Regions from separate parts of the Homo sapiens genome. Here region 2 is linked to region 1. The links come from fine-mapping of genetic effects on plasma protein levels. A gene starts in region 1. The other region holds a variant in brackets. All regions are shown on one strand. Distances are from middle to middle.

Evidence for each region. PIP is the posterior inclusion probability: the model's chance that the variant is causal. The UK Biobank Pharma Proteomics Project read protein levels with antibody pairs (Olink). The fine-mapping took linkage between variants from a reference panel, not from the people measured, so its PIPs are less certain.
Region 2: its variant is fine-mapped to the plasma level of the PM20D1 protein (UK Biobank, PIP above 0.99).

What each region holds. Positions count from the first base shown.
Region 1 is chr1:205,844,989-205,855,938 of GRCh38, forward strand. PM20D1 (peptidase M20 domain containing 1) reads right to left here and starts at 5,144. Exons shown (of 13, transcript NM_152491.5): 1 at 4,916-5,144; 2 at 2,897-2,983; 3 at 337-569. The coding sequence starts at 5,084. It overlaps LOC107985250 (a long non-coding RNA gene), which reads left to right and starts at 9,767. Exons shown (of 2, transcript XR_001738417.2): 1 at 9,767-10,950. RefSeq lists an enhancer at 5,073-5,367.
Region 2 is chr1:205,781,550-205,792,499 of GRCh38, forward strand. It overlaps SLC41A1 (solute carrier family 41 member 1), which reads right to left. Exons shown (of 11, transcript NM_173854.6): 11 at 7,546-10,169. The coding sequence ends at 9,984. Among named protein-coding and RNA genes, the nearest start is that of RAB29, 12 kb to the left of the region's middle. RefSeq lists an enhancer at 10,083-10,142. The variant T/C (reference allele first, on the strand shown) is at 9,199.

The DNA.
Region 1 (10,950 bases):
GCTGGTGGGATGAGGATGTGATAGATTCTCTTGAAAGAGAACAGATTCAAATGGTACAGGGGACCTGATGCGGAGAAACAGAACGTTTACCACCTGGAGAAGAGCATAAACATATCAGTGTCAGGACTGAAAGGGTCCCTGGGGACCATTCAATCCCATTTACAGCTGAGAAATCAAGGCCCAGAGAAGGGAAGTGACAAACTGATGGCTGGAACCCAGGTCTCCTGGAGCCAAGATTCTTTTTACCATTATCTCCCACCTCCCAGGGTCAGCCAAGCACCCCCATCCTGATTGATCTTTAGGGCCCCAAGGCAGAGGGAACATTGCATCTCAGACCATCACAGAGTTCTTGTCGTCCAGTGTGCCCCGACCATAGATGATGCCATCACGCTCCAACCCAGAGAATGGGGGCACCTCCCAGCCTTCTTCAGGGGCAGGCACCACATCAAAGTGAGCCATCAGCAGGTAGGGCTGCAAGCTGGGGTCCGAGCCTTGGATAGTGAACAGGTGGCTATACTCTTCCACGACTTCATGCTGGATAAAGCTGGTGCTGACCACTGTAGGAAAGACTAGAAGCAAAAAGGGCAGGAAGAGAGAACCAGGGTTAACAGTTTCCTTAGGTTTTCCTACCAAGTTGTGCTTCCTGTTCCTTTATTTATTTATTTTTTTAAACATGCATCCTCCTTTAGGAAGCCTTCTAGGACAAAGCTAGTCTGATTCCTGATCTACCTGGACAATCTTTGAAATTCGTCTTCCCCATATTTCAATGTGCTATTACTATGTAATAAATGCAAATCAAGAGCCACCATTAAGGCCAGGCTTGGGGGCTCATGCCTGTAATCCCAGCACTTTGGGAGGCCGAGGCAGGTGGATCACCTGAGGTCAGGAGTTCCAGACCGGCCTGGCCAACATGGCGAAACCCTGTCTCTACTAAAAATACAAAAATCAGTGAGGTGTGGTGGCTCATGCCTGTAATCCCTGCTACTCAGGAGGCTGAGACAGGAGAATCGCTTGAACCTGGGAGGCAGAGTTTGCAGTGAGCTGAGGTTCCGCCATTGCACTCCAGCGTGGGTGACAAGAGCAAAACTCCATCTCAAAAAAAAAAAAAAAAGACTCGGCCAGGCGTGGTGGCTCATGCCTGTAACCCAGCACTTTGGGAGGCTGAGGCGGGCAGATCACTTGAGGTCAGGTGTTCGAAACCAGCCTGGCCCACATGGTGAAACCCCGTCTCTACTAAAAATACAAAAAACAGCTGGGCGTGGTGGCACGTACTTGTAATCCCAGCAACTTGGAAGGCTGAGGCAGGAGAACTGCTTGAACTCAGGAGGTGGAGGTTGCAGTGAGCCGAGATCACACCACTGCACTCCAGCCTGGCTGACACAGCAAGACTCCAACTCAAAAAAAAAAGACTCACTATTAAGATGGTCAATATCTCAAGCTCAGGCTTGGTCAGACCTATAACATGCTATCACAAGTACGTGTTAAAGGGCTATGCAGATGAGGGATGCATTAAATTTTGACCATAGGAGGCCGCATTAACCAAATTATATTAAATTATTATATTAAATTAGTAGGCCTCATTAACCAAATTATATTTAAATATTATATTAAAAAGTTCAGAGACATTTTTCTTTTTAAAAAGCCACACATCTAGTGTATGTGTTATGTGAACATAAAGATTATTCTGTTTAGCACAAGGTCGTACTTCTGCGTGCAGGTGTAGATGTTCCTAGGGTCAATTATTCAAGCGACCTTAGCTACATAGGAGAAATAAATTTTATCTCTCTCTGGGTTTTTTGGAAGAATTCACATAAACTTCTGTGGATACCCGAAAACCGAAGAAGACTATGGTTTTATCTTGTCACCTAGCTTATCCAGTTTACTGTCACTATACATTTCCTTTCCTATGTTTGTCTCCTATTTAGTAAAGACTTGCAGCCTTTTCAGCCTGGCCTCAGCTTGGCTACTGGGCATTAATCCCTGAGCCACTCATTTTTGTTTTTTCCTTCCTTCCTTTCTTTTTTTTTTTTTTTTTTTTTTTTTTTCAGAGACAAGGTCTTGCTCTCTCACTTACACTCGAGCACAGTGGCACATTCATAGCTTACTGCAGCCTTGAATTCCTGGAATCCAGCAACCCTCCCACCTCAGCCTCCTGTAACTAGGACTACAGGTGCTCGCCACCATGCATGGCTAATCCCAGAGCCATTTGTCCCAGGGTGTTAGAGAGGGGGCTGCTTGCTGCTCCTAGGCCACCTTCTCCCACCTCTGACAACTTTGGAGGGGTTGTTTTTAATTAGATTTAGGAAGGTAATCTCATCACTCTCCATGAGATTTTCATAAGGGGAGGGAGGAGTTCCAAGAATCCTTTTTTCCTCTGACCCATCCTTCCTCAGCTCTGTACTCAATGGGTGGTAGGGATGAGGGAAAAAGACTGATGTTATAGCTCAAAGTTGTTGACTGCCTAGAGGCCTAGAAATGTGTTAGTAATGAATCTGGGGTAGGCCTGAGTACGTGGAGTGTATATGTACCGGTGTGTTTGGGTGTGTAAGGAGGTAGGGGTGGGAGGAGCATGGAACATAGTTCTGGGCAGTTGCACAAGTAGAAGGAAATCCTAGTTCTACTTTTTGATGATTTAACATTTATTGAATGACACACATGTAGGGCAAAATTTGAGAGAGTTTGTACTCTAATGCAATGGCTGGATGAACTCTCAATCTTTGCCCTACATATGGTGGCTTAGTTTTTCCAAGAGCAAATCTACAGTCTCTACTCTGCCTATGGGAATTAGATTGTCCTCTGATCAGTCGCAAAATAAACTTCTTTATCACTTTGTAAAAGAACTGTGTCTCCATTGCTATTTCTACCACCCACCCCTTGCCCCTGATTTGCAGCTGACCTTTATGAATGTATTTTCCGAACTCAGCCAGGGCTGTAGTATTGGACTTCTCAGAGCTAAAAGTCACTGTTGGAATCTGGATGGCACCTGTCAGAGTCAAATAGAGATGAAAGATTGAAAATGAATTAGTCATTGTTTTTTTCTACAGTCCTCTGTGCACAAAAAGTTCTTTTGCCTTCATTATCATATTGCAGAGGGCAAAACACTAATGTGAGGTAGGCGCTATTGTTTCCTCTAATTCGAAGATGAGGGAAAATGCTTGGAGAGGTTAGGTGAGCTGTCTGAGCAACAGGCAGACTATAGATTTAAACCTATGTCTTCTGGGTTTGTTTAGGCTGATATGGTTCTTAAAGGCAAATACAGTCTAAGATTGGAGGGAAGTGGATTTTTGGATCCTGGTCTTGAAGGGAAGCTACTATAAATTGCTTCCTAAGGCCTCACTACCTCTGAAATCACCAATTGCTTTGATGAATCCAAGCTTCATCATTCTCAAGGCACCCACTGTCCTGGGTCCCTACATCAATGAGGCTTGTGTGTTTTTGTATGTAAAGGCTTATTCCTTATGCAGAGTCTCACTAGTCTGTCAACCAAGACCAGCTTTTTGGGCATATAATGCCTGGGAAGGGGTGGATTTAGAAGCCTCCAAACAAACTCCTCAGTCCTAAAATAATCTCACCCTCCTTACTCAGTTGTCTCAGTTCCTGAACCTTCACTGGGCTCATCCCTTTGAGTCTTTAAGACTTTACAGTTTTAAAGAGTTCCATGATCAAAGACAAAACCACTGGGAGGGAAAGCATGAATCATGAGAATATTGAATTAGACTGCTCTCCAAGAACACAGTGCAAACAAATTCACCTGAGGCAGGAAGGGTCTCTGAAAGACAAACTTCATCAGTTTTGCTAAGGATCAACCCTACAATAGCATAGCCCACCAGATAGATGGGGAAGCCGAGGTTCAGAAAGATTCAAGTGCCTACTCAAGGGCAGACCCAAGGATCTGATCTCAGGTGTTCTGTCCCCTGCTCAGAGTTCCAAGCTGTGTTGCTATGAGGTCCCTATTCTAGCTTATGTAGCTTTTGTTCTCTTCTGTGCAGACTGTGAGTGGCTGTCTAATGCCTTTTAGAGAATTATTTATGCTTTGGGAAAGCCCTGCTCTGCCTCCCAGGCTTGTCACTCTAGCATATGAACAATCTATATCCAACTATTGGGGTTAGCTTTTGGTCCCTGCATCTGCTTCTATATGTTTATGCAGGCAGTCTCTCTTAATCCATTACTTAATGAAAGGGAAAAGACTGGAGCTAAGCTGAATGGTAAAGAAGGATTTCATCCCATAGGATCTAGCACTCAACAGAAACTTTCCTGTTTCCTGGAAAATGCAGATTCAGAACAGGGATGAATTTTTGGTCTGGATTAGAGATCTAGAGGAGACATGTTCTTCAATTATGATTGAGAATTAGGAACATCCCACACCCCGGGAACACTCCACTCCCTTTCTTTAGAGCCATCTGATCCCAGCGAGTCCGACAGGCACTAGATGCTGTCACCCACTGCCCACTCTTTGCTGTGGGGCCCTGGGGAAGATCATTTAGCTGACCTAAGCCTCAATTTCTCTCCTTTGTAGATAAGACTAATATCATTTGTCTTATTTTACGACACCGCAGTAATTTATCAGGCATGCAAACTTTCAAAGGTTAAAATTGATGTACAAATGAAAGCTGGTGTAATACTCGAGGCAAGCAGGGGAAAGAATGGACGGTGGTCACGCCAAGAGGGGTGAAGTTGGAGCTTCCAGGTTAGGCAGGGCACACCAGAGTTCCAGGAGCCAGGTATGGGGGAAGTGTGGCGTCCCCAGACAGGGGCACGATGTGCTGGGAAGGGTGTTGGGGCCGGGCTGGGGTGCGTGTCGGGGCTCCAGCTGCAGTAGCAGATGCTTTGCGGCGGAAGCGGGGAGTCACGGGTTGACCTGGGGAGGGAGGGACCCACATATGAGCATAGGTGGGTGAAGGGGACCCGGGTTCACCTTTCAGCGCCTCTTTCATCGCGACGCGTTCCTCTTTGCTGAACTGAGAAGGGATTCGCGACGCCCTTTGATGCTCCCCGCTCCTCGGGCCCATCGATCTGGAGACGGTAGGGAAAACTAGGAGCAGCATAGCCACCAGGGCCAGCACGCAAACGCACCGCTGAGCCATGCTTCTCTCGAGCTCCTGCTGTCAGGCTACCGGGGTAGTTCTGACCTAAACGCCCAGACTAGCGTTTCTTGGCCCTAGCTCTGCTCTTATTCCGGCAAACAGCCTTAGCCACACCCCATATCCAGATCTGACCAATCATCGCTTCGCTAGGACAGCGGAACAACCAATTGACAGAATGACCCCGCCCAGGATCCTTAAGGCCTTTCGAGGGTTGTGGGTTTTCGTGCTGAGGCCAGCAGTTCCTGCAGAGCAGAGGTGAGGTCGGGCTCCAGGCTAGAGTCATGTCTGGTCCGCACTTGATCTCTCACCCATAAATCCTTTCCTGTATGACAACAAATCAAATAAAGGAGGAAAAGCAAAATAAAATGCACGAAGCTTATCAGACCATACTCTGCTGCTCGTTTTTTCCGAAGCTTAGAACCTGACTACAATTCCCTAGATCCTGGGGCGGGGGAGCTCTCTAGGTTCCCAGCTTGATTTCATCTGAAATTGGAACAAATTGCTCTGTTTATAGATACTGCTTTGAAATACCAGCTCAGAGGGTTGGCTCCTGTTTAGAAATTTCATTGAAAGTGCTTTTAATATTAATGTTAACACTACATTTTTGCAACTCTAGACAAGTACAGTAAGACTGAAGGATTTTTAGAAAGATTACTATAAAATATTTAAGAGAATTTTGATGTATAAATAATTTTGATGTATTCCACAAGTGAAATTTTATGGTTATTCAGAGTAGAGGATCATTCTGGAAAAAAGAAAACCTGTCTTATGTCACAGAAATATAAAATCAGATTTCCTGAAGCCAGAATAAATCGTTCCTTTCAGATTTCTTGATGCAATTTTATCTGGCATCACTCTCAAATTTTAGAATTCTCAAGAAAAATTCAGTAAGTGCTATACAACCAGTAAGGCCATATTGCTACCTGTGACCAAAGCTACAGGTTCACAGTCCTGGTGTTTGCATTTCATTTAAGATTTGCTTAAAAAAAAAAATTCAGCCATGTAGTTACTTTTCTTTTCTTTTCTTTTTTTTTCTCTCTCGGTGCCCAGGCTGGAGTGCAATGGGGCGATCTCGGCTCACCGCAACCTCCGCCTCCCAGTTTCAAGCAATTCTCTGGCCTCAGCCTCCCAAGTAGCTGGGATTACAGGCATGCACCACCATGCCTGGCTAATTTTGTATTTTTAGTAGAGATGGGGTTTCTCCATGTTGGTCAGGCTGGTCTCGAACTCCCGACCTCAGGTGATCTGCCCACCTCGACCTCCCAAAGTGCTGGGATTACAGGCGTGAGCCACCACACCCTGCCTAGTTACTTTTTAATAGCAACTTTAAAACAGTATCATGAAATACTTCACATATTATAAAGATATAAAAAATAACATAATGAACATTTCTGGATTCACCACCTAGTTTAAGATTTAGAATGTTAAAAATAGAGTTGAAATTTAAACATGAACATTGACATAATTTTTAGTAAAAAGTAGCTTAATCTCTACCTAACTTTAAAATTTTTTTAAAAGAGACTTTTTATTTTATATATTTATTATTTTTTAAAATTATTATTATTTTTGTAGAGATAGGGTTTCACTATTTTGTCCAGGCTGCTCTTGAACTCCTGGACTCAAGCAACCCTCCCATTTAAGCCTCCCAAAGTGCTAGTATTACAGGAATGAGCCACCACACCCAGCACAATTTTTATGATTGTAAAATTCATGTATATTTATGCCCTTGTGAAATATTTGGAACATTAAGTATAAAGAAAAAAATCACATGCTATCCCAATATCCAGAGACGTTCACTCATCATATTTTGATGTTATCCAATCTTTTTTCTCTGCACACAAATACCCACAAATGAAGGATGTCCCTGTTTTAAAATGAAACAGATGCATATACTGCATCCAAAGTTCTATGTTCTGCTTTTTTTCCTTTAACATTATGTCATAAACACTTCCTGGTCCTTAAATATTCTTTAAATTATCTTATCACATAATATTTGATAATTAAGAGTACGTACAACGTGTATGTAAAGTAAATAATAACATGAACACCCGTGATTTGGAGTTTAGACCTAACTGGTCAAACTGCATTTTTTCTCCTGTCACTGCTCCAATTCTTGCAATCTGTCTAATTCCCACACTGTTCCCAGATCTAGCCAATCATGGAAAATTATCAGTAGCATTGAAGGTGCATGTGTTCTATTGCCTTTATTTTCCAACTCCCTGCCCAAGGTAATTGTATGACCGTGTTGTGTGTTTTAAATAGTTCTACAACATATGTATGATATACATATATGTATAGTGTGTGTGTGTGTGTATATCTTATAAAAATGACATCATGTTGTGTGTAGTCTTCTGCAATTTGCTCTTTTTACCCAACACTGTTTGTGGGATTTATGCATGCTGTTATATCTTGCTACAGTCTATTGACATTATTGTACATGTCTCCTGGGCCACAGGTAAAAGAGATTCTCTGGAATATATATCTAGGAGTGAAAATGCTGTGTTGTACTGTATGTTCTATTTTACAAGAGAAGGCTGAATTATTTTCCAAAGTGATTGGAACAATTTATACTAATCAGCAAGGTAGTGCATAGTATATAAGTTCCTGTTGCTTCACTTTCTCACTAGCTCTTGGCATTGGCATTTCCAATATCTTCATTTTGCCCATTTAGTGCCTGGAAAATATCTCCTTGTGGTATTATTTTGTACTCTCTAGTTTGTTAAAGAGTTTAAGCTTTATTTATTTATTTATTTATTTATTTATCATAGGGTCTTGCTCTGTCACCCAGGCTGGAGTTCAGTGGCACAAGTATAGCTCACTGCAGCCTCCAACTCCTGAGCTCAAAGAATCCTCTTGCCGCAGCCTTCTGAGTAGTTAAGATTGCAAGTGAACACCAACACCTTCAGCTAATTTTTAGAAGTTTTTTTATAGAGACAGTGTCTCTCTATGTTGCCCAGACTGGTCTTGAACTCCTGGCCTCAAATGATCCTCCTGCCTTGGTCTCCCAAAGTGCTGAGATGACAGGCTGAACCACCATGCCTGGCCTAAACATCTTTAAATATGCTTATTTGCCATTCATGTTTCTCTGGTAAAATGACTGTTCATATCTATTGCCCATTTTTGTTTAGAGCTGTCTTCTTATTGAATTTTAAGGGTTTCTATATATTGTGGAGTCTAAAATTTTGTCAGTTTTATTTAAATTATAAATATTTCTCTTCATTTGTGTCTTGTGTTTTTATTTTTTTAATGGCCTTTTGATGGGTTGAAGTCTTAATAATATAGTTGAATTTATTATTATATTCTTTTATAATTAGTGATGTTTTCTTGCTTAAAAAATCTTAACAAATCTAGTCCAAGGTCATAAATATATATATATATATGAATTTTTAGTAAAAAATAGCTTAATCTCTACCAAACTTTAAAAATTTTTAAAAAGATACTTTTTATTTTATGTATTTATTATTTTTAAATTTATTATTATTTTTGTAGAGATAGGGTCTCACTATTTTGCCCAGGCTGCTCTTGAACTCCTGGACTCAAGCTTTTTCCCTTATCTTCGAATTAGAGAAAACAATAGTGCCTACCTCATATTAGTGTTTTGCCCTCTGCAATACGATAATGAAGGCAAAAGAACTTTTTGTGCACAGAGGACTGTAGAAAAAAAAATGATTAATTCATGTTCAGTCTTTCATCTCTGACCATTTGACTCTGACAGGTGCCATCCAGATTCCAACAGTGACTTTTAGCTCTGAGAAGTCCAATACTACAGCCCTGGCTGAGTTCGGAAAATACATTCATAAAGGTCAGCTGCAAATCAGGGGCAAGGGGTGGGTGGTAGAAATAGCAATGGAGACACAGTTCTTTTACAAAGTGATAAAGAAGTTTATTTTGTGACTGATCAGAGGACAATCTAATTCCCATGGGCAGAGTAGAGACTGTAGATTTGCTCTTGGAAAAACTAAGCCACCATATGTAGGGCAACGATTGAGAGTTCATCCAGCCATTGCATTAGAGTATAAACTCTCTCAAACTTTGCCCTACATATGTGTCATTCAATAAATGTTAAATCATCAAAAAGTAGAACTAGGATTTCCTTCTACTTGTGCAACTGCCCAGAACTATGTTCCATGCTCCTCCCACCCCTACCTCCTTACACACCCAAACACACCGGTACATATACACTCCACGTACTCAGGCCTACCCCAGATTCATTACTAACACATTTCTAGGCCTCTAGGCAGTCAACAACTTTGAGCTATAACATCAGTCTTTTTCCCTCATCCCTACCACCCATTGAGTACAGAGCTGAGGAAGGATGGGTCAGAGGAAAAAAGGATTCTTGGAACTCCTCCCTCCCCTTATGAAAATCTCATGGAGAGTGATGAGATTACCTTCCTAAATCTAATTAAAAACAACCCCTCCAAAGTTGTCAGAGGTGGGAGAAGGTGGCCTAGGAGCAGCAAGCAGCCCCCTCTCTAACACCCTGGGACAAATGGCTCTGGGATTAGCCATGCATGGTGGCGAGCACCTGTAGTCCTAGTTACAGGAGGCTGAGGTGGGAGGGTTGCTGGATTCCAGGAATTCAAGGCTGCAGTAAGCTATGAATGTGCCACTGTGCTCAAGCGTAAGTGAGAGAGCAAGACCTTGTCTCTGGAAAAAAAAAAAAAAAAAAAAAAAAGAAAGGAAGGAAGGAAAAAACAAAAATGAGTGGCTCAGGGATTAATGCCCAGTAGCCAAGCTGAGGCCAGGCTGAAAAGGCTGGAAGTCTTTACTAAATAGGAGACAAACATAGGAAAGGAAATGTATAGTGACAGTAAACTAGATAAGCTAAGTGACAAGATAAAACCATATTCTTCTTCAGTTTTTGGGTATCCACAGAATTATATGTGAATTCTTCCAAAAAGCCCAGAGACAGATAAAATTTATTTCTCCTATGTAGCTAAGGTCACTTGAATAATTGACCCTGGGAACATCTACACCTGCATGCAGAAGCACCTTGTGCTAAACAGAATAATCTGTGTTCACATAACACATACACTAGATGTGTGGCTTTTTAAAAAGAAAAATGTCTCTGAACTTTTTAATATAATATTTAAATATAATTTGGTTAATGAGGCCTACTAATTTAATATAATAATTTAATATAATTTGGTTAATGAGGCCTCCTATGGTCAAAATTTAATGCATCCCTCATCTGCATAGCCCTTTAACACATACTTGTGATAGCATGTTATAGGTCTGACCAAGCCTGAGCTTGAGATATTGACCATCTTAGTAGTGAGTCTTTTTTTTTTGAGATTGAGTTTTGCTCTTTTCACCCACGCTGGAGTGCAATGAACTTAAACTATACCCTAGAACAAATGGACTTAACTGATATTTACAGACTATTCTACCTAACAATTCAGAATATACATTTTTTTCATCAGCACATGGAACATTCTCCAAGATAGACCATTTGATCGGCCACAAAACAAATCTCAATAAATTTAAGAAAATCAAAATTATATCAAGTACTCTCTCAGACTACAGTGGAATAAAATTGGAAATTAACTCTAAAAGGAACCCTCAAGACTATACAAATATGTGGAAATTAAATAATCTGCTCCTGAATGATCTTTGGATCAACAATGAAATAAAAATGGAAATTAAAAAATTCTTTGAACTGAATGATAATAGTGACAGAACATGTTAAAACCTCTGGGATACAGCAAAAGTGGTGCTAAGACGACATTTCATAGCATTAAATGCCTACATCAAAAAGTCTGAAAGAACACAAATAGAGAACCTAAGATCACACCTCAAGGAACTAGAGAAACAAGAACAAACCAAACCCAAAACCAGCAGAAGAAAATAAATAACAAAAGTC
Region 2 (10,950 bases), 63 kb before region 1:
CTTGCTCTGTAACTACCACACTTCCTGTATGTGTCTGCCTTTCTCTTTTCTACTTTTTACTTTCCACTTTTTATTTTGAAAAATTTCAAACCCATAGAAAAGTTAACAGTACAATGCATACTAATATGTCCTTCATCGGGATTTACCAATTACTAACATTTTGCCATATCTGCTTTGTCTCTTTGTGTGTGTGTTGAACTGTTTGAAAGTAAGTAGCAGACACTTCAAGCTTAAATACTTCAACATGCAGCTCCTAATAATAAAATTATCCTACAAAGCCAAAATACCATTATCTTTTTTTTTTTTTTTTTTTAAGACAGAGTCTCATTCTGACATCCAGGCTGGAGTGCAGTGGCACCATCTTGGCTCACTGCAACCTCTGCCTTCTGAGTTTAAGTAATTCTTCTGCCTCAGTCTCCCAAGCAGCTGGGACTACAGGTGCACGCTACCACACCGAGCTATTTTTAATAGAGATGGGGTTTGCCATGTTGGCCAGGCTGGTCTCGAATTCCTGGCCTCAAGTGATTTGCCTGCCTCGGCCTCCCAAAGTGCTGGGATTACAGGAGTGAGCCACCTCGCCCAGCCCAAAATACCATTGTCACATCTATGAAAATTAACCTTAATCCAATAATATCATCTAACAAACAGTTTACATTTACATCTCTCTATAGCTCCCCAATATTTTTTTCTCATTTTCTCCTCACCTGTCATCCAGAATACAATGAAGTTTCATGCATGGAATTTGGTTATTCTATTTCTTTAGTCTCTTTCAATCTTAGGAGCATGCTGTGTCCAATACAGGAGCCAGTAGCCATGTGTGGTTATTTACATTTAAATTATATAAAATCAGCTGGGCTTGGTGGCTCCTGCCTGCAATCTCAGCTACTCAGGGAGGCTGAGGCAGGAGGATGGCTTGAGGTCAGGAGTTCGAGACCAGCCTGGGCAACATAGCGAGATCCCATCTCTAAACAAATTTTTTAAAGTAATTAATTAAAATAAATAAATGTAAAGACCAGCTCATCTGTTGCCTAGCCACACTTCAAGTGCTTAGCAGCCATATTTGGCTAGCAGTTACTATATTGAACAGCACAGACATAAACTAGTTTCATCATCACAGAAAGGTCTGTTGGACAGTACTGTCTATAACAATCCCTTGCCCTTTTTTTTTTGACTTTCTTTTTAGAGTCCATGCCAGTTGTCTTACAGGAAGTCGCATATCCTGGATTGTCTGTTTATTGCCTCAAGATTTGATTTAAGAAACATTTTGGGCAAGAGCCCCACACAGAGGATGTGGTGTGCATCTTAGTATGTTGCTGATGTCAGGTAGCTATTAGTGATGCCTACACTATGAATTCAATGAACACTTGTTGAAGAAATGATCTGGTGCCAGGCAATCTCCTAAGGACTTGGGAGCTTGACTTCAAATAGGAGAGAGACAGCTTATATAATCTCCAGAGCCTCCAACATTGTCCTAGGAGCAGAGTGGAAAAATGCTTTGTAACATGAAGGGAAGACTGAAGTGACATAGCAAATGGCCCAGCAGCAGCACAGAGGAGAGGGACAGACCCAGAGAAGGGTGAGGTCAAGAGGCTACAGCTGTTCCTCAGCCCCAACCCCCAGACTCACTTCGATGATCATAACTTTTTGGCTGTTGCTTTGGGGAGGGGCAGGCAGCTTGGTGAAATGCCTGTGACCCAGCTAAGCATTCAGCTGGAAGACTTCGCAGCAAGGTGCCCAAGGAAACCCTCAGGACAGAGAGGCTGGCAAGTTCAAAGGGCAGCCTGCCAGTCATTCCTCTGCTGGCCCGTGCCAAGGGTCTAGGCCAGATTTGGGCCTGGGAGTATCTAGGGAAAACATCAAACTATAGTTTTCACTGCCTTGGTTGTCACATTTGCCTCCTTCTGTGGCTACCCTCCTTCCACCCCAAATAAAGGCCAGGGAAAGAAGACAGGAAAAAAGTGAAAACTAAAGAGAAAATTTTGCTTCAAAGAACTGGTTGTGTGGTTCCCAACTGTCCATATGGCACAGGAAAGTCTCATCTGTGAAACAAAATAAAGTTCCCTTCCAACACAGACATGACTGTTCTAATTTCCTATGTTATTTCAACTCTCTAGGAGGTGAGAAAAGCAGAAATTATTGCACCCATAGGCCATCCTTAGTTATCCACTGATAACCTGCCCCTCCTTGCCAAGAACTTGGAAGTAGCATTGTCCTCCTACCCCTCTCAAAGATAAACTGTGAAATCCACATGTAATGAGAGGTGCCCAGGCAGGAGGTGACATTGACCCAAGGTATAAACACACCTAAAGAAGGAATGCACTGATCCAAAGAAAGGTCTCAGAGGCAAAGAAAGGAGACTCTGAAAGAATTCTGGCTTCACTTCTTTGGGCTCTGTCTGGCAGAGGGACCAGAGTCTTACAAGAATATCTGGCCCTCTGTCAGGTATCCCTATTGTGCAGACTCATGCAGCCAAATATAACAAGGCCTGGCGCCTGCTGGACTTTTGCGTTTTAAAACTAACTTCTCTATTAGGATTCCTGACTTTCCAGGTACTTTCTGATCATCTGCCTTCCCTTGTGGCTTGCTTCCAGGAGTGAATGTGCTGGTCAGGCTGACGTGTCCGTCCAGTCCACTGACCAGCTGGCATCTGGTCTTATGCACAGGCCTCTGGGGGTGTGTGGGTCTGGCAGCCTCCTTGAGTGGGATGACATCTGAATGGGACTAGGTTTCTGAGCCTCTGAGGATGCAGCTGGACTCAGGGTCATAGTTGGCTTAGCTTAGCCATGTCATAGCCTTCGCCCAGTGGAAGCCTAGCTGTGAAACAGGCTGGTCCTCCTCACTGCTCAGCGTTGTCCAGCTTCAGCTGCACCCATGTCACAGATGGATAAAACCCAGCATCGGCTGGGCTTGGTGGCTCACGCCTGTAATCCCAACACTTTGAGAGGCCGAGGCGGGCGGATCACCTGAGGTCGGGAGTTCGAGACCAGCCTGACCAACGTGGAGAAACCCCGTCTCTACTAAAAATACAAAAAAATTAGCCAGGTGTGGTGGCGAATGCCTGTAATCCCAGCTACTCAGGAGGCTGAGGCAGGAGAATCGCTTGAACTTGGGAGGTGGAGGTTGCAGTAAGTCGAAATCGCACTATTGCACTCCAGCCTGGGCGACAGAGCAAGACTCCATCTCAAAAAAAAACAAAAAACAAAAACCAAAAACGAAACAAAAAAAACCTCACAAAAAAACCCAGCATCGCTCCAGGGCTATCCACTTCTTCATTCCCCAGTTCCTTCATATTATTACCACCACTAATTCAACCCACATTTTATCATCATCATCATAAAAGCTTCTATTTGTCGAATCTTCTGTGTGCCTAACAACCCCACAGAGAGGGCATTATTGTTCCATTTTGGGGACCAAAAGAGGCTAATTATGGCCACGAGCTGAGAGAGCTGGGATCCAAATCTATTACTATGTCTGTCTACCTCTAATTACAACTATTTTTAAAAATTAAGCTGGGTGTGGGGATGAGGGAGGTTTCCCAGAAGAGTACAGCATCCTTAGCATGTTTTCTGAGTTTCCTCATTCCAAAGGTGGAAAACAGGACCCCTACTTACTGAAGTAAAAAAAAAAAAAAAAAAAAGAATCTGCCCTGATTGGCGAAGGCAGCCTGGCAGTTGTGTCTGGTTGGAGAAGCAGGAGAAATTCTAGGTAAGCCCTGGGTCATCTCAGAGGATTCTGGCAGCCAGCTGTGACCCTGATACAGAAAAAAGATAACCTAGATGTTAAGCTAAGCGAGAGATATAGAATGTAGAAGCATGAGCAGAAGCATGAGTGGGCACATGATGGACTATTCTGGCTCCACAGGATGGGAGTTATGAGGGCGAGAGATCAGTGGCCTTGTTCTTGGCTTGGACGTGGGTCCCCTAAGAGCACTTCCGGCCATGGTGACATCTTTCCCCGCTACCTTCTTGAGCCTGTGTCGAAGGGTGGTTTGGTGTGTGGCCTGCCAATCAGGAGACTGTAGTTAATATTCCGTCTTTGACACCTGGGGCAGGTCTTAAAGTTAACCTCTTAAAGCTTTAGTCTCCCTTTCCATGGACTTCGAATTCCTAAAAACCACATACTTTATTTCTGAGTAATTTGTGAAGTAGTTAACAATTTAGGTAATATGATTGAAAGTTATGCGCATGACAGCCTGTGGCCGAGTAAAAGACAGATAAACATGTGGGTGTCCCAAGAAGGCCGCAATTTGGGGCTCTTCTAATGCAATGTTCTCTATACAATTGTTCAACATTTTTTTCACTTAACATTTGAATATAATACAAAATATTTATGTTCAAAACAAGGACTGTATATCACATAAATATGACTGAATAGGACATAACTTTTTTTTTTTTTTTTTGAGATGGAGTCTCTCTCTGTCACCCAGGCTGGAGTGCAGTGGCACGATCTCGGTTTGCTGCAAGCTCTGCCTCCCGGGTTCACGCCATTCTCCTGCCTCAGCCTCCCGAGTAGCTGGGACTACAGGAACCCACCACCACACCCGGCTAATTTTTTTATTTTTTATTTTTAGTGGAGACGGGGTTTCAGTGTGTTAACCAGGATGGTCTTGATCTCCTGACCTCGTGATCCGCCCGCCTCGGCCTCCCAAAGTGCTGGGAATACAGGCGTGAGCCACCGCGCCTGGCCAGGACAGAACATTTAAACTTATTTGGATGTGTTTTTCATTTAACTTAAAAAAATCACCAATGACTAGATAATATTAGTCATTCATACTTAACTAAACATAAATATGACTGTAAAGTCTTTGAAATTATTTTTAAACATTCTTTTTTGGTTGGCCAAGCTGTCTTCACTTTTCTGCAATTTCTTTTTCTTTCTTGAGTTATTAAGATTTTTGTGTTTTTGAAAAGAGAGTCTCACCAAATTGCCCAGACTAGACTTGAACTCCTGAGCTCAACTGATCCTCCGGCCTCAGCCTCCTGGGTAGCTGGGACTATAAGCTCATACCACCATGCCTGGCTGTAGAGTTTTTTTTTTGTTTTGTTTCTAATCATTCAAGCCAGACATTTTCATGGGTGCCATATTAAAATATTTCATATTTAGATAATGTAATAAAAATACAGTACAGTAAACAGCATTATACTATGCATTATTCGGTTTCTGAAGTTTAGCTAAAGGAGACAACTAAGTTCAGGAGACTGTCAGCTGACTGACCTCTGAATTGGTAGTGCTGCCTGTAATTATGTTATAAAAATACCATCAGAGATAGGCTGGCGCCTTGGAGCCATGACTTTAAATGTCCATTGGAAGATACTATTTCAGTAAACAATTAACGTTTTGCAGTCATGTATAGTGTCTCATAAGCAAAACTGAGATAACAGGCACCCATTTTTCTGATCGTTTTAGCAATGTTTTATATTCCTTATAAAGGGGCACCATGGCCAGCCATTTCATCTGGCTCCAGGCATAGAAGGCACGCACTGGGCTAAGAAACCTGGGTGTGAATATATGACCTGGGGCAAGACATTTAACTTTTCTCTGAGCCTCAGTTTTTCTCTTGCAAAATGGCAATAATATCTATCTCATAGCGTTATTAGAGAAAACATTGATGTTACAAATGAGTCTATCACTTAAAAGTATATGTATAGTATACTATATAGTGAAACACTATATAAATAATAATTAACAAGCAATTATCCTCTTTCCATTAACCTTTACTAGCCTTATAAACATTGCTTTGAAGAGTTAGTACTGGAGCACAGGCTGTGATAAAAGGCAGATTTTTGAGACTGGCAAATGTTCTGCACCCAGTATCTGCTCAATACTTTTGTGACATATCCCATGGGGGCATGTCCTGGGTGGGCAGTGGTTCCCGACACAGGCTTTGTAGTCAGAGATACCTCAGTGGGGCTGTGCTCTGACTCTGCCTTTCTGTATCTGCCATCTCAGAAAAACTGCTTTGTCACAAATACGTGCGTCTCATAAGGTTGTGCTATCAACGTCTGCGCTCCCAACTCCAGTCATACAGAGCTATTTGCAGTTCCCAAAAGCATCAGGCTTACTTCCTTGCTCAGCTCCTGGTTCCCTCTGCAGGACGGCTCTTTCTCCTATTTTCTGCTAGGCTAACTCCTATTCTTCTCAGCTTCCTCCAGGATGTCCCTGACTCCCAAGCCTTGATCAGGTGCCCTTTTCATTGGCCCGCTCCCTTATCCACCCTGAATTTATCCCATGGCCAGCGTACTGACATGACCTAGTCACTGGCCTTCGTCCCTCCCACACTGTAGTATTGATTAGGATTTTTGGGTTTAGTATATACCAGGCACGGAGCTTAGTGCTTTGTTTATTATCTCACTGAGGTCTCATAATGATCCTATGAAATAAGTATTAGTACTGATGAGGAAACTGAAGCTCAGAAAGGGTGAATGATTTGCCCAGGGTTATACAAATACAGGCAGAAGAGCTGGGATTTGAACCAAGGCCCATCTGACTCCAAACCCTTTGCAGTCAGTCTATTATAAGTTTCTAAGGGCTTAAAGGTGAACGGTGAAGACACACAGGAAATACTCAACAAATAAGAGCCGTCATTATTTTGACCCAGATTGTAAGCCTCGGTAGGGAGGGAATCTTAACCCATAAATGCTTGGACCCATAGCACAATCCCCCAACAGAGGCTGAGTTAACACATGGAGACCAGAGTACAACCTCCTCGAGAGCAAGGACCCTGCATCTAGCTTCTTGAGTGTGTCCCCGTGCACCAGTTTCTCAATAAATGCCTGTTGTTTTTTCTTTTTTTTTTTTTTTTGAGGCAGAGTTTTGCTCTTGTCACCCAGACTGGAGTGCAATGGCATGATGTCAGCTCACTGCAACCTCCACCTCCTGGGTTCAAGTGATCCTCTTGCCTCAGCCTCCCAAGTAGCTGGGATTACAGGCGCCCGCCACCACGCCCAGCTAATTTTTGTAGAGACGGGGTTTCACCATGTTGGCCAAGATGGTCTCGAACTCCTGACCTCAGGTGATCCACCCCTCTCAGCCTCCCAAAGTGCTGGGATTACAGGCATGAGCCGCTGTGTCTGGCGATGCTGTATTTTCTATCACACAATCTCTGCATTTTAGAGATGTTTCCTTTTTTTTTTTGAGATGGAGTCTCGTTCTGTTGCCAGGCTGGAGTGCAGTGGTGCAATCTTGGTTCACTGCAACCTCTGCCTCCTGGGCTCAAGTGGTTCTCCTGCCTCAGCCTCCTGAGTAGCTGGGACTACAGGCACCCGCCACCACACCTGACTAATTTTTGTATTTTTAGTAGAGACGGGGTTTCATCATGTTGACCAGGATTGTCTCCATCTCTTGAGCTTGTGATCCGCCCGCCTCGGCCTCCCAAAGTGCTGGGATTACAGGCGTGAGTCACCGCAGCCGGCCGAGATGTTTCATTTCTTGTCACACTTTGGCCCCTTTCTACTCCTAATTGAGGAGAGGGTAAGGCCTACAGAGGGGCCCAAGACAACAGTTGAAGCTGCTTTTTGATGAGACATACAGGAAACACCAACCATCTAAATAAACGTCCTCTTTATTTTACCAAATATAATTTATCAGTTAAGTTGACATTTGTCAATTCAGTTATAGTAACTATAAATAATTCTCTTAAGACACAGTTCTGTAACTTTTTAAGGATACGAGAGTAAACCAATATTGCTCCTTGCAGCCAGGCCAAAAGTACATGCAGTTGGTACAATCGGGGAAAAGAAATGAAACTTCCATGAAAGTCACCTTCATTTTCTTTCCCTCTCACCCTACAGTCCTCCTCTGCTCACTCAGGGCCTGGGGCATGCCTATCTGTCTGCTTTTTAGGCAAAGGAGGTCACTCCAGAGTCTTCTGGGACTGCCTGGCCAAATTCCAGAGATGAGGAAGGGGCGAGTGACTGGGGTAGGGGTGGCTGGAGACCACAGGGACACAGCCTTAGGGGCAGAGGAGTTGGTTTTGATGCCTGTACAAGAAGAATCTGTGTGTAAGTATTTTTTGAGGTGGAGGAAAAGATGAAAAAAGTCCAGAGGGAGGAGGAAAAACAAGCCCAGGCTGGTGTTAATGAATTCTGTTGGACACAACTCCAACTAGAAAACCTCTAAAATTCCTTCCAATTCTACGGTTCTATGATTCCAGAAGGAGGCCTGGAGGTCTGGGTAGAAATGGAGGGAGAGAAAATATGGTCTCTGGAGGTCTAGGGCAGGTTCCTGGGATAAGGTGCAGTGTTGGTAGAAACAGGATCATTGCCTAAGCCTTCCCTTGGAGGTGGGCCCTTGAGGCTACAGATGGAAGGGTTTCTGTAGAAGCTTCTGAGAGAGAAGTTAGAAAAAGCCTACATCCAAATCCCCAGATCTGTACACGTGTGACTGCGGATGGAGGCTCCAGTTTTCTCCCAATTTTGTGCTAGGCAGAGAAAAGTAGAAACAACCAGATGATGTCCACCCTGCTAGTTCTAAATCCTCTTTTGGGTGCTTGGTAAGGAGAGGTGGAGGGAAGGGAATGTGAGGAAGGGTCGTTTAGGGAAATAAATACTGGTTGAGCAATGGGGCGGTGGCTCTAGCTGTGGTCAGCACTGCACAGAGTAGGGGTCTGGAAAGGAGAAAGAGGCAGAAGAATCTGGCTTGAAGTAGATGCAAATACTTACAACGAGGAAACTTTCTCTGCCAGATTCAAAGGGGCACATGGCCTTTGTAACCTGGAGAATGAGGTGAGGTTAGAGCTGTGTTTCCCTTACCACTGGCTTATCAGTGCCTGGCACAGTACCTAACACATAGTAGGCACTCAATAAATATTGCTCAAAGAATGTTTCAGACCATGCTTGTCTGCAGGAGAGCTCATCTTGCGGAGGCTGCATATTTGCTAAATGAACGAATAAATGATTGGTGAATGTTTGTGGGTAGAAGCCAAGAAAGAGGAAAACTGACCTCTATGGCATGACAGAACGAGTAATTTTAGGAAGTGACAGGGTCCAAGGTGACCAAGTGATTATGTCCTCAGGAGAAATGGCAGCAATGAGACACCTGTGGTTGTCCTCAACCTCCAAACCATTCTCCACATACCCATGACCTGACCCTAATCTCAAAACCCAACCTGGCAAGCTCTGGGGAAGGTAGTGCTTAGAGACAATTTGAGATGAAGGTTGAAGAGAGACAAAGAATCTGGGCCCAGGGAGACAAAGTCAT[T/C]TGGGCCCAGGGAGAATGTGGATTTTGGGGAACCAATAGGTGGACATGGGTCAACAGGGAGAAGAGTGCACTGTTCCATTTTTTCCTGGATATGACAATCAACTGGAAATGATCAGAGGGAGGGGTTGTTGATGTTGACCAGGCCATTGAACAAGAGGCATGTGCACAAATTGAAAAGTCAGTCCACCTTACTCTTTCTGCGAGTGGGAACGCTTAGGTCCAGAGGGCAAGAGAACAGAACTGGGATCACAGGGGCCTGGAGCAGGTGTCTCCTGTCCAGAGCTTTGAAGTTGGTCCACTTCTACAAAAGTATGTCTGTGTTTGGGAGTGTTACTTATTCTTCTGTCCCTCTGTTCAACCAAAACCAAAAATAAAACAAAACAGATAAAAAGAAAACAAAACCAAAAATCCAGAGCCCACTTACAAAGGGTTTCTCATTAGGGCCAAGACAGGTTGCTAAAGCCAAACCCCATGTCCCCAGATTCCAGACAAAACTCCCCTGCTCCAGTCCACATCACCTGGAGGCACCCACCATGAAACTGCACTTGGTGATTGTCTCAAAAACCTACTTGTACTGCTTATCTCAGGCCATCTGTGTTTCCCAAATTCTTGCTATACAAACTTGGCTCAATGTATAAAAATTCCCATTGAAAATAATGAGAATTTGGTATCAAAGTGAAGTCCTAGAAAGAGGTGGGAGTGTGGGGTGGAGGAGGGACAGGGGAACAAAAGAAAAATTTCAAATAGAAAGTGCAGAGGGATGGGGAAAATGTTGAGTGACCAAGCTAGTCCCCGACATCCGTGTCTCGGTCCCCTATGAGCCAGAGAACATGGAAGCTGAGTGCTAGGAGCCCAGTGCCAAGCAGGTCCCCCAGAGCAGTCAAGTATGGGATGGAGAAGTTGTCCGGGTCCAGGCCCCGGCCCCACATCCAGTGCACCATCCAGTCTGCGATGTACAGGAGAATCAGCACCTGGGGAGACAAAAGGGCCCAGCCTATAGCCATCCTCTCTCTCCAGGGGGAGCCAGAGGCCACATGATCAGACCCATTCAGTGCATCACAGGGCTTGGCTGGCCATAATCCTTACTTTTTAATCTTCCTCTTTCCACCCCAGCAACCTCTCTGTGTTTCTCCACCCCACAATTACCACTTTGAGCAGACAACAGGCACAATAAGAGCTCTTTAGAAAGGAAGATGCTGCTACGACCCAGGGTCACCCACATCAGCATTATATTCTGCTCCCAAGTTTACCAAACAAGGAGCTTCCTGACCTAAATCCTACTTGTTGCAGAAACTCAGCCCTCTTGCCTCTAACTCTGGGTCACCTCATTCTGGGGTCACTCCAATTCCTGCCATGTTGGCCTTTCCAGGAGCATGGCAGGGGGCTGGCTGCTGGAGTCAGCTTTTCCTAAAGGGATGTCTTCTCTCGGCAGAGTGGTATAAGGATAGTGTTTGAAGCTGCTGCTGGCGGTTGTCTTAAGTAACAGATGATCATCCCAAGCTGGCTTCCTCCTGACCCTTTTCATTCTGTTGTTGTGGCTTTTCATTCCATTCTTTTCCATTGTTTGGGCTCAAAGAATGCAAGTTTATTTTAACATTAGTCCTAATAAAGTTGAATTGTGAATAAGTCACCTCAATATTAATATAAAGCAGACAATGCATACCAATTCAAAATACATTTGACATGATCTGTGGCTTTGATTTTATCTGTGTTCTTGCTTACCTTCTATTAATACAGATAATTAAGAATGAC